Regions from separate parts of the Homo sapiens genome. Here region 2 is linked to region 1. Evidence: fine-mapped expression QTL. Tissue or cell type: nucleus accumbens. Region 1 holds a variant in brackets; the other region holds the start of a gene. All regions are shown on one strand. Distances are between the middles of the regions.

Evidence for each region. PIP is the estimated chance that this variant, and not a neighbour inherited with it, causes the effect.
Region 2: it holds the start of VPS37B, and the variant in region 1 is fine-mapped to the expression of VPS37B in nucleus accumbens (GTEx, PIP 0.94).

What each region holds. Positions count from the first base shown.
Region 1 is chr12:122,749,259-122,752,011 of GRCh38, forward strand. No RefSeq gene overlaps it. Among named protein-coding and RNA genes, the nearest start is that of DENR, 2.2 kb to the right of the region's middle. RefSeq lists enhancers at 664-958, 2,062-2,753. The variant T/C (reference allele first, on the strand shown) is at 1,435.
Region 2 is chr12:122,894,733-122,897,232 of GRCh38, forward strand. It overlaps VPS37B (VPS37B subunit of ESCRT-I), which reads right to left and starts at 1,392. Exons shown (of 4, transcript NM_024667.3): 1 at 1,220-1,392. The coding sequence starts at 1,330. RefSeq lists an enhancer at 1,056-1,205 and a silencer at 1,386-1,535.

The DNA of each region.
Region 1 (2,753 bases):
GGATTACAGGCTTCAGCCACCGCGCCCGCCCTATTACTATTATTATTATAATTATATGACCAAACTGTCACAGTACTCTGGGGAGAGAGAAACCTTCATTTTTTACTGTATATGCTTCTGTATGGTTTGAATATTTTGCAAGAAGCATGTAATATTTTTACAATAAAAGACTAAAATGCATTGTAGTAAGACTCTCAGAGTGTCTGGGAGCACAGAATTAGAGTCAAGCTGATCCTCTGCCAGTGCTTTTAGTCCACTGAGAATCGACCTGTGGCGGGTCATCCCAGCTTCAACCAGTGAGATGCGTTTATGCTGATACTTCTGATACTCTGGGTCCCTCATATGAGGGGGTCCTTGGTTTGACTAAGCAAAGACAGGTTTTGCTGCCTGACTTAACAAAGTGCTTATCTCATCCCGATAAAATTGTATCATCTTTTAAAATTAGTCCTCCTCTACATTGAATGTTTATGGGCCTCTTGTGACAGAACTGGTTGTGTCCCTTGTCAGTCCTGTGCTGCAAGAGCAAATGACCTTATTAAACGTCTACTTTTTGGAGAAGCAGAACAGGTTGCTTTTTATTAACTGCTGTGGTGCCGCTCCTCCCTCTTCATCTCAGTCCCCTAATCCTTCTCCCTTTGAGCAGGGCTTCTGGGATCAAGAGTGCAGATGATGGCCTATTTATGTGTTGTTTTTGTCTTCCCAGCATCCAGGCACTCTACTTGGGCATTAGCATCCTGATTTTCCTTGGGCAACAGATTCCGCCCTCTCCATCCATCTCCGAGGTTTGGAGGATTGGGGATTTGGTTCCACCCCTTGCCTCTAAAAATAGGCATGTGACCAGGTCTGGCCAATCAGATCATTCCATCCCTGTGGCCACTGTGACTGGCCCAGGGATGAGCACATGACTCAAAATGCTAATGAGACATTCACCTGAGTTGTTCCCTGGAACTGTTGGAAAAGATAAATATCTCTTTCTTCTGGGATGGTTAAACTAATAGAAAATAACGTAAGTAAGCAGTAGGAAGAAAACATAGGGATAGAGCCAACAGATGAAAAGAGATAGCAACCTTAAAAAAAAAAAACTTGTAAGCCGGGCGCGGTGGCTCACAACTGTAATCCCAGCACTTTGGGAGGCCAAGGCGGCCGGATCACGAGGTCAGGAGATCGAGACCATCCTGGCTAACACGGTGAAACCCCGTCTCTAATAAAAATACAAAAAATTAGCCCGGCGTGGTGGCAGGCGCCTGTAGTCCCAGCTACTCGGGAGGCTGAGGCAGGAGAATGGCGTGAACCCGGGAGGCGGAGCTTGCAGTGAGCCGAGATCGTGCCACTGCACTCCAGCCTGGGCAACAGAGCGAGACTCTGTCTCAAAAAAAAAAAAAAAAAAAAAAAAAAACTTGTAAATTTGACATAATTTCAAATGTACAGAAAATC[T/C]ACAAGAATAGTATGAAGAAACTCCCATGTGTTTACCCAAAATCACCAAACATACACACTTCTCACATTTGTTTTAGAATTCTCTGAGAGCAAGAGTGAGAGAAAGGTTCTAGAATACGTTGTTTTATCTGCAGGATCCAACTATTCTTGAAACCAAGATCTATTCCTGAAGGGGTGGGTTGCCCCTCCACGCCTGTGGGCATTTCTCGTCAGGTGGAACGAGAGGCTTGGAAAAGAAAGAGACACAGAGACAAATTGTAGAGAAAGAAAAATGGGCCCAGGGGACCGGCGTTCAGCATACGGAGGACCCGTGCCCGCACCGGCCTCTAAGTTCCCTTAGTATTTATTGATCATTAGCAGGCATTTCCCGGACAGGGGGATGTGCCAGGATAATAGGGTATAATAGTAGAGAGAAGGTCAGCAGGAAAACATGTGAACAAATGTCTCTGCATCATAAACATGGTAAAGAAAAAAGTGCTGTGCTTTTGATGTGCATATACATAAACATCTCAATGCCTTAAAGAGCAGTATTGCTGCCAGTATGTCCCACCTCCAGCCCTAAGGCGGTTTTCCCCTATCTCAGTAGATGGAATATACAATCGGGCTTTACACCGAGACATTCCATTGCCCAGGGACGAGCAGGAGACAGATGCCTTCCTCTTATCTCAACTGCACAGAGGTGTTCCTTCCTCTTTTACTAATCCTCCTGAGCACAGACCCTTTACAGGTGTCGGGCTGTGGAATGGTCAGGTCTTTCCCTTCCCACGAGGCCATATTTCAGACTATCACATGAGGAGAAACCTTGGACAATACCTGGCTTTCCTAGGAAGAGGTCCCTGCGGCCTTCTGCAGTGTATTGTGTCTCTGGGTACTTGAGATTAGGGAGTGGTGATGATTCTTAAGGCGCATGCTGCCTTCAAGCATTTGTTTAACAAAGCACATCCTGCACAGCCCTTAATCCATTTAACCCTCAGTTGACACAGCACAGGTCTCAGGAAGCACAGGGTTGGTGGTAGGGTTACAGATTAACAGCATCTCAAGGCAGAAGAATTTTTCTTAGCACAGAACAAAATGGAGTCTCTTATGTCTACTTCTTTCTACACAGACACAGTAACAATCTGATCTTTCTTTTCCCCATATATTCCCATACTCTTACATTTTTCTTTTTTTCATTAAAAAAAATTGTAGGCCGGGCGCGGTGGCTCACGCCTGTAATCCCAGCACTTTGGGAGGCGGAGGCGGGAGGATCCCTTGAGTCCGGGAGTTCGAGACCAGCCTGGACAGCATAGGGAGATTCCCCCACCTCTATAAACAAATTA
Region 2 (2,500 bases), 150 kb after region 1:
CAAATCTGCAAGGATGAAGTCAGTTACCCGAGAGCAAACCACACCTCAAGGTGTGAAGGAAGATAACCAGAAACAGGAGCTGGCACATGCCTTCCAGGGGCTGGGCAAGGCTTGACTCTCAGAGGTGAGGGTTGGCAGCCAGCCCCAAACCCCCATTTTAACTTCTTCCTGAAACTGCTCCAGGAACCTTCCTTAGTCCCAGACACGTGGGACGCAGTGGTACAAAGCCAGCCACACTAAATTTCCCACCTTCCCTTCCTCGGTGGAGGGGGCAACCCTTACAGAAAAACGTATCCTGTCGCCACCCTTAGGCCCATCCACGAACTCCCGTAACTCTGCTGGGGCCACTTCAAAAGAAGTCAGACTCCAGGGGCATTATTGGGACCCCTTAGATACATGGAACCTTCAAACCTTACCCTGGCTATGGTATGACCATGGACTCCTGCCTCCAAACCCTGGGCTGGGGACCCTCGCCCAACCCTTAAAGAGCCTCAGAACCACCTCATAGACTCAGCTACAGACCCTCAGCCTCCCGAACCCATCTTGGAACCCTCAATCCTCTCCTAAGAGTCCTATTTGGATAGTCCACTCAGTCCCCCAAAACCTACTCTGATCCCCTATAGCTGCCTCAGTCCCCCTGGTTGTCCCCAACCTTTCCTCTCAAAGGAAACCCCCCAACCTCTACCAGATCTAGCTCTTGGTCCCCCTCAGTCACCCCTAATCCTCGCCTCCGACTCAGCCCTTATTACTCTCCCCGCTCCTCCGACCAAACCAATCTCAGATCCCCCCAGTTCCGTCCTCTTCCGCCTAGACCCAACGATAGCACTCTAATCCCCAAATTCCCATTCCAGGCTCCCTAATCTCCACTTCAGACCCAGCCTTAAGTCTTCAGACCCAGCCTTAAGTCCTCAGCCCCACAAAACCTTGTCTCAGGACCCCCAATCGGCTCCCCAAGCCCCGTCTCAGGACCCTTTTTCCCGCCTCCGCCCTAGTCTCGGTCCCCTCAGTGCCTCAAACCCCCTCTCAGGCCCCCTATTCCTGCCTAAGCACCAGTCGCGGTTCCCTGGCTCCCGCACCCCGCCCCAAGCGCCCCCATTTCTAGCCCAGTCCCCTCAACACGACCGGAGGCGCCGCGGTCGCCTCCGCCTCCGGCCACCGTTCGAGGAGCGAACCCCGCTCGAGGCCTCACAGCCGCCGCCTTAAGCCCAGCTCGGCTCACCTCCTCCATCTTCTGCACCATCTCCGTCAGCTGGCCCTCGTCCTCCAGCAGCTCGTTGAGCTGCACCAGCGACAGCCCGGCGAACCGGGCTTCGCTCCCGGCGCCCGCCATCCCCACGTCTCGGCCGTCGTCGCCACCGCCGCTGCGGCCACCAGGCTCCGCCGACCGGAAGCGCCGCCCTCAAGGGCCGCCCCCCGCGGGGGGGACACGTGACGCCAGCCCTGGGTCGTGACGTCATCACCGCGCGGGCGGGCGGACGTGACGTAAGTGTCGCGGCTCGCTTGGAGTGGAATGTGTCAGGGACAGTCGGGACTTCTAAAGGGAGGGGAAGGGCCCTATGATTGGGCTGTGACGCGTGAGCGCATTAATGACGTCACTGCGGCTCGGGAGAGCGCGCCATGAGGTCATAAGAGCCTTTTTCCTCCAGGAAGAGAGATACCGCGATCCAAGGAAAACAGGCAGTGGGAAGGAAGTTCCCGCAGCCTGTGAGCCCAGCCCGATGCACGGAACCCAAAAGACAGAGACTTCATGGGGAAACAACTTTAGGTGTCATTGGTTACTTGGAATTGTGGAGCTGCCACGTCATTCATTTAACAAATATGTTTTGAGACCTACTCTGTACTGGGCATTGAGTATACAGTTCTGAATAAAGCAAAACGGACCCCTGCTTACATGGAGCTAACAGAATGAAAGAGGACGCAAACAAAACAAGAAATAAGTAAAATAATTAGGCGATCACAAATAAGGGAATGGACACTGAAATAAGAAAATAAAAAGACCTTTAGGGTAGTAAGAGATGGCACTTTCGGAGAAGGTGGCGTCTAAGGAAATGTGAAGGATGAGAAGGGAGGAACCAGCCACCATTCCTGTAGGAAGCTCAAGGCAGCAAAACCAGCACGTGCAAAGGCCCTGGGACAGGACTAACTTGGTGCATTCAGGAATGGGAAGAAGGCCAGTAAGGCTGGAGCATTTTGAGCAAGGACCCATTGAGTGGCCCCTTTGCATCACCTCAGAGGAAGGTGCCCAGACATCCAGGTGGGCCAACCTGTGCTCTTTCAGAAACAACACGATTTAGGGTGCAGTCGCTCTCAGTCTCTCAGCTACCGGGAAGCCTCTTAAGATCCAGGAGCCTGGGAACTCATTATCCTACTTTGGAATCTGTCACAGTTCTAGTTAGAAGAAACCTAAGGCTGAGGTTAACCATGACAGCCCCCTAATTTTACACATAAGGGAACTGAAGCCCTGAGAAGGGGAAATTTTTTGGGCTTTTGCTTTGTTTCT